4 linked regions of the Homo sapiens genome follow. The protein of the gene in region 1 purifies or fractionates together with the protein of each later gene. This does not show direct contact. Each region holds a gene or a part of one and is shown on either strand. Other genes may lie near its edges.

What was found.
Region 2: the proteins of KIFBP (region 1) and KIF13B purify together in Homo sapiens (affinity purification with mass spectrometry; 2 studies listed by BioGRID and IntAct, with this or other methods). This does not show direct contact.
Region 3: the proteins of KIFBP (region 1) and PUS7 purify together in Homo sapiens (affinity purification with mass spectrometry; one large-scale study listed by BioGRID and IntAct). This does not show direct contact.
Region 4: the proteins of KIFBP (region 1) and KIF1A purify together in Homo sapiens (affinity purification with mass spectrometry; 2 studies listed by BioGRID and IntAct, with this or other methods). This does not show direct contact.

Annotation. Positions count from the first base shown.
Region 1 is NC_000010.11:68,998,803-69,002,302, forward strand, and holds part of KIFBP (KIF-binding protein), read left to right. Parts: intron 1-1,621; coding exon 1,622-1,720; intron 1,721-3,500. UniProt on the Homo sapiens protein: Activator of KIF1B plus-end-directed microtubule motor activity. Required for organization of axonal microtubules, and axonal outgrowth and maintenance during peripheral and central nervous system development.
Region 2 is NC_000008.11:29,071,071-29,074,570, reverse strand, and holds part of KIF13B (kinesin-like protein KIF13B), read left to right. Parts: intron 1-2,254; coding exon 2,255-2,951; intron 2,952-3,500. UniProt on the Homo sapiens protein: Involved in reorganization of the cortical cytoskeleton. Regulates axon formation by promoting the formation of extra axons. May be functionally important for the intracellular trafficking of MAGUKs and associated protein complexes.
Region 3 is NC_000007.14:105,459,772-105,463,271, reverse strand, and holds part of PUS7 (pseudouridylate synthase 7 homolog), read left to right. Parts: intron 1-521; coding exon 522-651; intron 652-3,500. UniProt on the Homo sapiens protein: Pseudouridylate synthase that catalyzes pseudouridylation of RNAs.
Region 4 is NC_000002.12:240,722,720-240,726,219, reverse strand, and holds part of KIF1A (kinesin-like protein KIF1A), read left to right. Parts: intron 1-815; coding exon 816-949; intron 950-2,183; coding exon 2,184-2,245; intron 2,246-2,661; coding exon 2,662-2,807; intron 2,808-3,500.

The sequences.
Region 1 (3,500 bases):
TCTCAATCTGTAGCCCAGGCTGGAGTGCAGTGGCACGATCTCGGCTCACTGTAACCTCCACCTCCTGGGTTCAAGCAATTCTTCTGCCTCAGCCTCCCAAGTAGTTGGGATTACAGGCATCTGCCACCACACTCGGCTAAATTTTTTTTGTATTTTTCAGTAGAGATGGGGTTTCACCACGTTGGCCAGGCTGGTCTCGAACTCCTGACCTCAAGTGATCTGCCTACTTCGGCCTCCCAAAGTGCTGGGATTACAGGTGTGAGCCACTGTGCCGGGCCCATATATATAATTTTTTGGTTTTGGTTTTGTTTTTGAGACAGAGTCTTGCTCCATCACCCAGGTAGGAGTGCAATGGCACGATCTCGGCTCACTGCAACCTCTGCCTCCCAGGTTCAGGCAGTTCTCGTGCCTCAGCCCCCCAAGCAGCTGGGATTACAGGTGCACGCCACCACTCCTGGCTAATTTTTATGTTTTTAGTAGAGATGGGGTTTCACCATTTTGGCCAGGCCGGTCTTGAACTTCTCGCCTCAAGTGATCTGCCTGCCTCGGCCTCCCAAAGTGCTAGAATTACAGGCGTGAGCCACCATGCCTGGCCTATTTCTTTTTTTTTTAAAAAAAAAGTTCTCTGGAAGAGCATAGTATTTTGAAAGTATTATATGTTTCTGATCCATCTTTGTCTATTATCTCAGAATCTCACCATGGCTTAGCTGATTGTTCCTTACTCAAAGGCCCACATCATATTGTTGACCTGCTGGGGCTCGCAGTAATACTTGAAGACTGGGACGCCGGGAGGATCCATTTCCAACTTACTCACATGGTTGTTGGCAGGATTCAGTTCCTCACAGGCTTTTTGACTGAGGGCCTCAGACTGTTGACCTCTCTCATTTCCTTTCCATATGGGCTTCTCCATAGGGTGGCTCACAACATGGCAGTTGGCTTCCTTAAGAAGGAGCAGGCAATTGACCGGGCGCGGTGGCTGACGCCTGTAATCCCAGCACTTTGGGAGGCTGAGGTGGGTGGATCATGAGGTCAGGAGATTGAGACCATCCTGGCTAAAACGGTGAAACCCCGTCTCTACTAAAAATACAAAAAATTAGCCGGGCGTGATTGCGGGCGCCTGTAGTCCCAGCTACTTGGGAGGCTGAGGCAGAAGAATGGTATGAACCTGGGAGGCAGAGCTTGCAGTGAGCTGAGACCATGCCACTGCACTCCATCCTGGGCGACAGAGCGAGACTCCGTCTCAAAAAAAAAAAAAAAAAAAAAGCAGGCAATAGATAGCATCCAAAATGGAAATCAAGGGTTTTGTTAACTAATCTTGGAAATGACTTTCCATCACTTCTGTGATAGTCTAGTCGTGAGAAGCACATCACTAAAACCAGCCTGTACTCAAGGGGAAGAGGTTACCTAAGAGCATGAATACCCCGAAGCAGGGATCATTGGGGGTTAATTTTAGCAGCTACCTGCTGCACTACATAAGGTCAATATCATTGTGAATAATTAATTCATTGGTAATCCAACTCTACTATTTGGTTGGTTATAAGTATTGACTTCAAAACTATGAAAGTTACTTTAATTGGAAGTCTTATATCATTGTTTGTTTCTCTTTTTCTTTATTTTCCAGAATAACCTGGGTATCTTGTGGTCTGAAAGAGAAGAAATTGAAACTGCACAGGCTTACCTAGAGTCATCAGAAGCACTATATAATCAGTATATGAAAGAGGTATGTTACATGTCAGATGAGTTTTAAGTTTTGATTGAAACTAGTTAAGAATTGATAGTAAGAATCCCTCATTCGTAATATTGGTGTGACTCTTCACTGTGCCCTAGAACTTCTCTATAGAGCCATCTGGGAAGTCACCTCATAGCTGAAATTATTGCATATTAAAGACTTCAGGGTTTTAAAAAAATAATCCTTGTATAGGACATAATGGCCACCTAGTCTAAATACAATTATAAAGGAAATATTATTCTAGTGTTATCCTAAAATACTATTTGCATGTTTTTGTATTTATAATCTAAACATTCTATTTTAGTTTTCCATGAAAATAGCACTACTTGAAGGAAACAAGAACTACTTTAACAAAACATCTGAAATCTTTGAAGCAATGGTTCTCAAATGTTAGCACCCATCAAAATCTGGAGAGCTCATGAAAGCACAGCAGACTGGGCATCCAGGCTCTGATTTAGTAGTTCTGGGGTGGGGCCTAGGAATTTGCATTTTTAATAAGATCCTGCCTGGGTGATGCTTAAATGCTGCTGGTCTAAGTACTATACTGTACTTTGAGAACCACTGCTTCAGGGCAATGGTTTTTCAATGATTTTTTTTTTTTTTAACCCGTGAAACCCTTCTGAAAATGCAGCATATAAAAATTGATTGAGTTACTCTGGTTAAGCAGGTTAGAAGGACCCAGAGCCCACTCCACTACAGATTCTTCCTCCTCCCCACTGCAGTAGCACAAAAGAGATGCTGTAGAACTTTTAGGGGTCTGGGGAGCCAACATTGAAAACTCTCACTTTAGGGGTCACAGCCTGCAAAGGTGACAAGCCACTGTGTTACCATCTGTTTCCTTAATAAACTTTTTTTTAATATGAAAGGGAAATAATCAGGCACAATATTTTCTTGTGGATTACTATTTGTCACAGCTATCTGCTTTAAAAATCCATTAATACGGCTGAGCATGGTGGCTCATGCCTGTAATCCCAGCATTTTGGGAGGCCGAGGCAGGTGGATCACTTGAGATCAGGAATTCGAGACCAGCTTGGGCAACATGGTGAAATCCCATCTCTACTAAAAATACAAAACAGCAGGCATGGTGGCGCACGCCTGTAGTCCCAGCTACTCAGGAGACTGAGGCAGGAGAATCGTTTGAACCTGGGAGGCAGAGGCTGCAGTGAACTGAGATCACGCCACTGCACTCCGGCCTGGGCGACAGTGAGACCCTGTCTCAAAAAAAAAAAAAATCCATTAATAAAGTGCTTTTATAACATTAAAAAAGTTGAAATAACATTAGATATCACATAAAAGAGACTAAACATACAAAATTATGTTTGCTAAATTCATGCGTCAGAATGCTTGACTGCAAAAGGATATAAGAAGCTTGGTATGCCTGTAATCCCAGCACTTTGGGAGGCTGAGGCTGGAGGATCACTTGAGCCCAGGAGTTTGAGACCAGCCTGCGCAACACAGGAAGACCTCATCACTACAAAAAATTAAAAAATTTGCCAGATGTGGCACACACTGTAGTTTTAGCTACTTGGGAGATTGAGGCAGGAGGGTCGCTTGAGCCCAGGAGTTTGAGGTTGCAGTGAGCTATCATCGAACCACTGTACTCCAGCCTGGGTGACAGAGCAAGATTCTGTCTTTTTTTTTTTTTTGAGATGGAGTCTCGCTCTGTTGTCCAGGCTGGAGTGCAGTGGCGTGATCTCGGCTCACTGCAACCTCCACCTCTTGAGTTCAAGTAATTCTCCTGCCTCAGCCTCCCAAGTGGCTGAGATTATAG
Region 2 (3,500 bases), on another chromosome or scaffold:
TGGTCAGAGCAAGCCCCTTGCCAGTGAAGGCAGCAGCTTCTGTAGCTCATCATGGTGGTTTTCCAAGCTTGGGCTTTTGCAGAAGTCTCCAGAAATGTCTTCTTCAGTGGCAAGGGTATAATCCATAGATGGCATCTGGGTTTCAACTCACAAATCAACTCCAGTCAAGTGGGGATGGGGCCTGGAGTGCCAGTCTGTGCTTTCCACCATCCTGCTCCCTGCTTTGTTGACTCTGCAGCTCTGCCCCCAGTGCCTGCCTTTTCACTTAGTGCAGCCTTGGATGAGGGCTTTCCCCTCTGGAGGCCTGCTGTAGAATAATGCCATGATCCTTCCAGCCCAGCCCAAGCCAGTGTCTTACATGGAAGCCAATGGGATGATGATACTTGCAAATCTGAGGCATGCAGCTGGCCTCATCCTGGGAGAGCCTGGCCTGGGGAAGTGACAGTGGCTGGCCTTACCCGGGGTGGGGGCGGGGAACAGAAGCCATTTCAGGACCCTGGTTACCGTTCAGATTCCCGGCTCTCATAGTTTTGCGTATTCTCCCCTGTTGGGTCAGTGATATTAAAACTAAAATAGAAGAGAATAAATAAAACATGGACAATGTGCAAAGGAAGAATGATTGAAGGATTGCCTAATCTTTTAGAGTATTTATGCTGGTGACAGTTATTGATCTATTGGATTGAGTAAATTTTGCAGCCTAGAGATTCACCACAAAAATGGGCTGTTAATCTCAAGAGGTGCCATTAATTTCCTACCCTGAAAGTGTGGTTGGTGGGGAAAAGAGGGCCCCTGGAAACGGGAATATAAAGGACAGTTCCTGGGAAAACGCATGATTTATCAAGCTGCTGAGGTAAGCCAAGTAACTGTAAGAGACGTATAGATCTCAGCCGCTTCCCCATTCAAATAAATCCCGTATTTCAAATGGAAAATGACCATTCCTGTAATATAAATAATTTTTCCATAAATATCGGAAAACATATTTCTTCTGGATAGCAGTGCTCTCCACCCCACCAATCTCATTCCCTGTTCCTGCCTTCTCCTTTTCTTCGGTCACTGTGAATAGGAATAGAAAGATGATCTGGCAGCCTCTTCACATGGCTTCAGTTATAGATGAAAGAATGCCCCAGAAACAATAGGATTTGGGCAAGCGGTGGCTGCTCTCCCCCATGAGATGTGGGCTTTGAGTGTGTGTGTGTCCTCTGCCTGGGTGACTCAGACAGAGTGACCGACATGAGGAGAGCTGCTGGCCTCACTTGGTGGCTTCTCCCTGGGGGCTGCTTCCTGGCCTCTCTCCAGGGTCCGAGGCCCCCCCAGCCCCTGACATGGCACCTGCTTTCCATAGCAGCCAGAGCAGCAGCCTTGGAGAGAAAGGGCCACGGCCCACAGGGAGCCTTTGTCCCCTCCTCATCCCCCTCCTCGTCCCCCTCCTCGTCCCCCTCCTCGTCCCCCTCCTCGTCCCCCTCCTCGTCCCCCTCCTCATACCCCTCCTCGTACCCCTCCTCGTCCCCCTGCTGCCTTGCTCGGGATGCCCAGCCAGGCTGCAGGCCCGTGGCTCCTTGTTGGTGCCTGAGCTGGCCAGGCTGTGCTGAGTGTGTTCCGGTCCTCCGATGAGATCATTGTTTAGGTTTTGCCGGACAAAAAAGTGCTCTTCTGGTCTCTTTAGTGACTCAGTCTCTTCGTGAGGTTGGGGGTGGGCAGGGGCTTTGTCTCCATGGGAGGAAAGCTAACTAGCCCTAGCAGGGTTTTAGCGTGCACCTACTGTGTGCTGCCCTCTGTGGCGAGGGGCCTTGGTCTTTGTAGCGTGCTGGCCCTGCATGGCAGGCCCTGGATTCTATTTTGTATGAAAGGTAAAAAGTAGATGGGGCAGGGGCTGTGGCCATGGTCAGTGCTCTTGAGCCTGGGCACACAGCACAGGGCCTGCGGGGTGCACTGTCGGCCCCTCAACCTTTATCACTTTGGAAGCCAGGGCCATGCAGCCCTAAGTGGCAGAACCAGTGTGGGAACCAGGGCCTGGCCGGGTCCCAGCCATGTTCTTTATTTATTTATTTTGTCGAAACGGGGTCTCACTATGTTGCCCAGGCTGTTCTTGAACTCCTGGGCTCAAGCGATCTTCCGTCTTGCCCTCCATAAGCACTGGGGTTACAGGCTGAGCCACTGCCCCTGGCCTCATGCTCTTTTCCAAGTCAAAGCTGCCTGCTTGGTTCGTGTTGGAAAGTTTTCTGTTCTCAGCCCCTGCTTCCCCGTCCTGCTGCAGGCTCAGCCGGAGATGGGCCCTGACGTGCTGGTGCAGACGATGGGGGCCCCGGCCTTGAAGATCTGCGACAAACCTGCCAAAGTGCCTTCCCCACCGCCTGTCATAGCTGTCACAGCGGTCACCCCGGCTCCGGAGGCACAGGACGGGCCCCCCAGCCCCCTGAGTGAAGCCTCTAGCGGGTACTTCTCCCACAGCGTCTCCACCGCGACCCTGTCGGACGCCCTGGGCCCCGGCCTGGACGCTGCGGCCCCGCCGGGGTCCATGCCCACCGCCCCTGAGGCCGAGCCCGAGGCGCCCATCAGCCACCCCCCACCGCCCACGGCCGTCCCCGCCGAGGAGCCCCCTGGCCCCCAGCAGCTCGTGAGCCCCGGTCGGGAGCGCCCCGACCTCGAGGCCCCGGCGCCCGGCTCCCCGTTCCGCGTCCGGAGGGTGCGGGCCTCGGAGTTGCGCTCCTTCTCGCGCATGCTGGCTGGGGACCCCGGCTGCTCCCCGGGGGCCGAGGGGAATGCGCCGGCCCCGGGCGCCGGGGGACAGGCCCTGGCCTCTGATTCCGAGGAAGCTGACGAGGTCCCGGAGTGGCTCCGAGAGGGCGAGTTCGTCACCGTGGGCGCCCACAAAACGGGCGTGGTGAGATACGTGGGGCCTGCCGACTTCCAAGAGGGCACGTGGGTCGGCGTGGAGCTCGACCTGCCCTCAGGTGGGTACCGGGCACTCCGGGCTCCAGGGTGGTGCCGGGGGTCTGGGGAAGCAGGAACGTGGCCGGCCTGGGAGGGGACAGGGTCCGGGCAGGAGAGGGAGGGGCCGGGAGGCAGCGGCTTGGCTGAAGCTGCGGGAGCGGCTGGGCCTGCAGGGGTGAGGCTGGGGGCAGGGCTAGTCCCTGGAGACGACATGGAAAATTCCTGATGATTTTGGCTACAAAGATCCTGTACCCATCCCCCCATCGCCATGGCTGTTCCCGCTTTTGTTCCGGTCTCCCCTGCCCTCTGCACTCCCTGGGCTCTGCTTTCTCATCCTTCACCTTAGAGCATCTCCCCTTTGCCGTTCCAGGAGGCTCTTCCTCACCCCATCCGGACACATCTCGCTGGCCTCTGACTCGCCCTCATTTGGCAGTTTTGCCAGTTTCCATTTCATAGATTCAGCAAAAGAACCATTCTCCCGCCACCCAGCCCAGGCCTGGGTCCAGATGGAGAAGGGTCTGTTCCCGCACGAGGCGGGCCGGTTGTGCCTTAGTGGCTGGCCTGCACCT
Region 3 (3,500 bases), on another chromosome or scaffold:
CAAAGAAGTATTTCCCCATTAATGACTGTGCAAGCAAAGGCTGGAAAACTGTCTCTCTTGAGTGCTATAAAAAAGACTCTACATCAGGTGCGCGGGTGAGCCAGATGGTTTTCCAAGGTCTCTTATTTTTATACATTTATTTATAACTGCCTCTTCCAGAGAGAGTTTGAAGCCTCTGTATATGCTGTCTTCCAACTCTCAGCCCATATAAAATGCAGTTTAGCAACTTTGGATGAAATGGCCTTTTGTAGTTGGCTTGGGAACCTTACACCACAGGTACTATGACTGGTTGCAAAAATAACTGAAAAATTGGCCAAACCAAAGCTCAGTACACCCTGTAGTCCTAGTTACTAAGTCACTAAATTTTGATTCCAGGGAACAGATTTTGGATTATAAATTAAGGTGACTAATTTTATTAGGGCAGTCTAACTGAACTTACATTGTTACTCTCTTTATAATCTAGTTCAGGATAACTTGACTGACAAGCTGCATTTCAACTAACTTTTTGTATTTTATATTAGTTCAAGAAGCCTACAGGGAAATGCTCACAGCTGACAATCTTGATATTGACAACATGAGACACAAAATTCGAGATTATTCCTTGTCAGGGGCCTACCGAAAGATCATTATTCGTCCTCAGAATGTTAGCTGGTGAGTAATCATCTAGAATGAGATAGAACTGAATTACCATATAAGTTGTAAGCTTTTGCTTCACTTTATATAGAGTCATGTACTGCACAAGAATTTTCAGTCAGTGACAGATTGCTTATATGATGGTGGTATCATAAGATTATAACACCATATTTTTACTTACCTTTTGTTTTTTTTTTGGTTTTTTTTTGAGACGGAGTTTCACTAGTCACCCAGGCTGGAGCACAATAGCATGATCTCGGCTCACTGCAACTTCTGCCTCCCAGGTTCAAGCGATTCTCCTGTCTCAGCTTCCAGAGTAGCTAGGATTACAGGCACCTGCCACCACACCTGGATAATTTTTGTATTTTTAGTAGAGGCAGGGTTTCACCATATTGGCCAGGCTGGTGTCAAACTCCTGACTTCAGGTGATCCTCCTGCCCCGGCCTCCCAAAGCGCTGGGATTACAGGCACGAGCCACCACACCTGGCCTTACCTTTTTTCTTTTCTTTTTTCTCTTTTATCTTCTTTTCTTTTCCTTTTCTTTTTCTTTTCCTTTTCTATCTTTTTCTTTTCTTTCTTTTCTTTTTTTTTCTTAATAGAGGCAGGTTCTTTCTGTCACCCAGGCTGGAATGCAGTGGCATAATCATGGCTTCCTGCAGCCTCAAGCTCCTCTGCTCAAGCAATCCTCCCACCTCGGCCTCCCAAAGTATTGGGATTACGGGCATGAGCCACCACATCCAGCCTGTGCCTTTTCTATGTTTAGATGCACAAGTACTTAAACCATTGTGTTACAGCAGCCTCCAGTATTCAGTACAGTAACATGCTGTATAGGTTTGTAGCCTAGGAGCAATAGGCTATAGTCTGTAACCAAGGCGTGTAGTAGGCTATACCATCTGTGTTTGTGTAAGTACATTCTGTGATGTTTACACGGTGATGAAATGCCTGACAAGGGTTAGAACATGTCCCTCTTGTTAAGCAGTGCATGACTGTACTTTTTCAGTGCTTACAACCTAGCATCTAAGTGTTTCATAAGTGTTAGTTATTATTGTTATTACTACTATTGTTACCACTACTGCTACTACTTTGTATTTTTCAAATCATCAAGAAGTAAATGAAGCTAAGCCGGGCACAGTGTCTCATAAGTAAGCCCGGAGACTCCAGAGGCTGAAGCGGGAGGATTGCTTGAGGTCAGGAGTTTGAGACAAGCCTGGGCAATATAGTGAGACCCTGTCTCTAAAAAAAGAAAAGAAATAAAGAAGCTGTTTTGAATATAAACAGTTATGGGAAGTGAGTTCATTTACATTTTATTGGCATCACTGAATTATTGAAGAAATGTGTAGAGTGAACTTTTTTCCTATTTCTAAAAACTTAGATTTGCTTACAGAGCTATCTCTGAGCAAATTACCTTACTTAGAATTAGCTGTGAGTTCCAAACACCGCTCTGGTTGTTTTAATATCATGTTTCTAGAGAGGAAAATATACTTATGTTAGTTCGTTTAAAAATACTTTATTGGAAGCCCAAGGTGGGAGGATCACTTGAGCCTAGGAGCTTGAGACCTGCCTCCGCAACATAGCAAGACCATCTCTACAAAAAATTACAAAAATTAGCCTGGTGTGATGGTGCACATCTGTAGTCCCAGCTGTTTGGGAGGCCAATGTGGGAGGATTGCTTGAGCCTGGAAGGTCGAGGCTGCAGTAAGCTGTGATCACGCCACTGCCCTCCAGCCTGGGTGACAAAACGAAACCCTGTCTCAAAAACAAATTTTTTTTTTTTTTTTTTTTTTTGAGACGGAGTCTCGCTCTGTCGCCCAGGCTGGAGTGCAGTGGCGCGATCTCGGCTCACTGCAAGCTCCGCCTCCCGGGTTCGCGCCATTCTCCTGCCTCAGCCTCCCGAGTAGCTGGGACTACAGGCGCCCGCTACCACGTCCGGCTAATTTTTTGTATTTTTAGTAGAGACGGGGTTTCACCTTGTTAGCCAGGATGGTCTCGATCTCCTGACCTCGTGATCCGCCCGCCTCGGCCTCCCAAAGTGCTGGGATTACAGGCGTGAGCCACCGCGCCCGGCCTCAAAAACAAATTTTAATACTCAGTATTATCTAAAGCTTTATTTGATAATTTTAAAATGAAATCCTGAACTAGTTGCCTATTTCCAGGAAATTATTTTATTCCCTATTTCCTTCTCTTCTCCATCTCTCTTACCTCCTCCTCTCTGGAGTATAGGCAAGAGGTCCACATGGTTGGACTTTGTCTTCCCCACTCCAGAGAACTGTTCCTTCTCAGTAACAAGCTGTTGTTGGTTGTGGCACCCAGTCTGGAGAAAATGTAAATGCCGTAAGTAATTTGATCACAGCTGTGCAAAGTGAAGTTTACTGACTCTCAACTTCATTTAAAAAGAATTGTCGGCTGGGCACGGTGGCTCACGCCTGTAATCCCAGCACTTTGGGAGGCCGAGGCGGGCAGATCACGAGCTCAGGAGATCGAGACCATCCTGGCTAACACGGTGAAACGCCATCTCTACTAAAAATACAAAAAATTAGCCGGGCATGGTGGCGGGCGCCTGTAGTCCCAGCTACTCGGGAGGCTGAGGCAGGAGAATGGTGTGAACCCGGGAGGCGGAGCTTGCAGTGAGCCAAGATCACGCCACTACACTCCAGCCTGGGCGACAGAGCGAGACTCCGTCTAAGAAAAAAAGATTTGTCAGTTGTACATTTTTAAAATTTTAATTATTAATGTGAAGAAATGGGGTTTCACCATGTTACCCACGCTGGTCTTGAACTCCTGGGCTTAGTCATCCCACCTCGGCCGCCCAAAGTGTTGGGATTAGAGGCATGAGCCACCATGCCTGGCCCCAGTTGTGCATTTTTAAA
Region 4 (3,500 bases), on another chromosome or scaffold:
GGGCAGCACAAAAACAGAAGTGTTCCATCCCCACAGCACCCCCAGAGTCTGCAGTACATAGGCCGTGGCCAGACCTGGGCTGTGGCCTCCCTTCCAAGTGCAAGAGGTGACTGGAAGTGTGGGCGTTTCTTGCTGGTCATAGTAGTGAGGGAGAGGGAGGGTGGGGAGCAGTGGGCAGGGGCATCTGCAAGCACATCCCCTCTCCTTAGTTACAGCCGAATTATTCCAGCTTCACATGGGGATGGTGTGACCATCTCACCAGATGGTGGTGAGGTTGCCGTGAGGAGGCGCTGGCAGAGCTCTTCCCAGCGAGTGCTTGGGACTCTTCAGCCATGCACAGCAGCTGCCCCCACTTCAGGAAGACAAAGGGGCCAGCTGTTCAGCAGTTAGCGTGTCATCCACCAGGAAGTCATTTTCTGTGGTGTTTGGGTTAAAATGTGCACATTCAAACAAGACCTGGTTTGATCCTCACAGACATTCCAGGGTCGGGGAGGGGTCACCCCAATTTTATGGTGAGGCAGCTGAGGCCCGAGCAGTGAGCCTATGTCTGGGACCCTCGGGGTCCCCACACATGGAGACCAGTCCCTCAGGCAGCCCAGGGGTGGACAGAGCTGTGGCTACCTGTCCCCAGTGGGGTTTTCTCGAGGGCAGGAGCAGAGACTTTCTCCTGCCTGCGTCCAGGCCACACCTGAGGCCCTGGGAAGGCCCTGGGGCTGCCTGTCGGTGCTGGGCATTGTGCCCCCAGGAGAAGGCTGGAAGGGCACCTGGGCACTCGGGGTGTCCTTGTGCCTGAGTCCTGCTCCCGCCTATCTCAGATGGAGAACTGCACCCAGCCGGCTGTTGTCACCAAGGACTTCTGCATGGTCTTCTATTCCCGTGATGCCAAGCTGCCAGCCTCGCGCTCCATCCGCAACCTCTTTGGCAGTGGGAGCCTTCGGGCCTCAGAGAGGTAAGCTCCCAGGGGTGAGGACCACATGGACTCCCACCCTGGTCTCGGTGCGGGCCAGGCAGGGCTCTGCCTGGCAGCGGTCCTTGGGCCACCCGGCAGCTCACCCTGTGCGAGGCCCAGCCACACTCCTGGCTGGCTCCCTGCGCTCAGTCCCCTCCTGCTCACCCTAGATGAAGACTCTGTGGAGGCCATGGTTCCTGCAGGGGACACTGACACCACTATGAGGGACTTGAGGGCCAGCCTGCAGCGGATGGGAGGAGGGGCAGGCCCAGGGTGCCCACCTGGGGCCTCCTGTGGGTGATCCTGGGGCCACACCGTTCCCCCCCCCCCCCCCCCGCCGCCGGTGACCTTCTTCCCTGAGGACCACGGAACCTGTGCCATGGGACTGACTGCCCACAAGGCACTGAAGGAGGAGCTGGATAAGTGGGCGGTGGCTGGAAGGGGGCTCTGGACACAGCTTCCCACAGGACCTGCTGGGTGGCTCTTCTTGGAGGCTGTCAGCACCTTGGGGAGCCACACACCGAACACCAGGACCAGCCGTGCTTGCGTGCTGAACACGCTCCTGATTCTTGGGGGTGGGGGAGAATGAGCCGGAATGTCAGGGCCCTGACAGCAGGGCTGCCGAGGCTACCGGGCACCCGTGGCCACCTTCAGTGGGTCTCCCTGTGGTCTGCCACATGGACCTGGTGTCCAGGTTCACACTGGGCACAGCTGGGAGGAAAGAGCTTGGGGGTCAGGATCCAGTGTCCTTGAGGGCTGGCTGTGGTCATTCTGGAGGTCACTCAGTAATTGTGGGATGCCACCGACCTGTCTGTGGGAGGGTGGCCGAGGTGCTCTCAGAATCTGTCCGGGGCACAGTGGGGCTGCTCTGTGGGGTATGGGGCCTGAGGGGCTCTCGACGCCGTGGAGGGACTGGAGATGCCAGATGCTGTGCTCATGTTGCCTGTACCCCACTTGGGCTGGGACAAAGTGGAGGCTGCTGTGGGGGCCTGGCCTCACGTCACAGCCCCATGGGCACCTGAGCAAGACCAGCCAATGCATCTTTTCTCTGGGGGCCGGAGGGAGTCTGGGATGAGGACTCTGAACAGGGGCTGTAGCTCAGGGACCTCAACACCCCATCACCCCAGCCAGGCTGACTGTGCGTTTGATAGTGGGGCAAGTCAGCAGCCAGGCTGGCTGTGTGTCCCTGTTGCGGGGCCTGGTGACTGCATGTCACTCCTTCTACTCCCCACAGTAACCGTGTGACTGGTGTGTACGAGCTCAGCCTGTGCCACGTGGCTGACGCGGGCAGCCCAGGTAGGTATCTGCCCTGCTCTCACTGGGTGGGTTCCTGGCCTGCTCAACCTCTGCCCACTTGGGGTGACCACAGCGAAGCTGCCATTTGCAGGGGGATCCCTCACAGAACCCAAGCACTCACCTTGTGGCTTCTGGAGTTGTTCTGAGATGGGAGGAGAGCGAGGGAGGAGAGTCAGGCCTGCTGGCTTCCTTGGGTTCCCAGGGCACAGCCGAGATGGCCATGGGACGCCGGGCTGGATAACTTCCTATGGAAGAGGCCTACATGGCTCTTTGGGCCCCAGGGTGGACCAAGGACCAGGGGAAGCCCATCTCCACTCCAGAGGGGAGACAGCTTCACAGATGGGCGGACCTCTAGGATGGGTGGGAGGAGCAGCCACCCATCAGGTAGGGGTGGAATGTCCACGTGCCCCATGCAGGGATGCAGCGCCGGCGCCGACGAGTCCTGGACACATCTGTGGCCTATGTCCGGGGCGAGGAGAACCTGGCAGGCTGGAGGCCCCGGAGTGACAGTCTCATTCTGGACCACCAGTGGGAGCTGGAGAAGCTGAGCCTCCTGCAGGAGGTGAGGCAGCCTCAGAGGATGAGGCCCGCACGGTGGTGTCCATGTGGCTTTGTGTGCAGAGCAAAAGCTGGAGAGGGCCCAGGGCCTGGTGCCTACTGGGGGGCAGCACAGCTGCTTGGGAGTCACAGCCACCTGCAGGAGGAGCATGTGATGCTCCAGTGTGCACTGCGGGGCTGCGTGGTGTATGACAGAAACATGGCCAGTGTAGCACAGAGGCATGCTCTGGAATTAGCCGAGGAAGACTATCGGGCATATAGACAGAGGCCAGAAAGGGACCCGGAAGGAGAGTCGCGGGGCTGGGCTGCCCTCTGCGGCTTTGATCAGGGAAACCAACATGCAGCATCTAGGCACTGCCTCGGGCCGAGTGTGTGTGTGACACGTGACGCGTGACGTGTGAGATGCGTGAGGCCAGGGCTCTGCCCACCCCTCGGCCCTCTCCTGAGGCCTCCAGCACTGCAAGGCAGCACAGCCCTGCCCCAGAACCTGGCGCGTGAGATGGATGTGTCTGAGAGGAGCAGCTTGCTTGCTGCCCATGAAGGTGGCAGGGCTGGGGTGGGGGCTGAGGGCTGTCAGCCCCGGGGCGCCAGGGTCTGTTCCCTCATTTCACAGCTGAGGGCTGTCAGTCTTCAGTCTTAGCCCAGGGGAGGGTGGGCTCTCCGGGGTCTGCCCAGAGGGTCATGCTGCTGCTGAGGC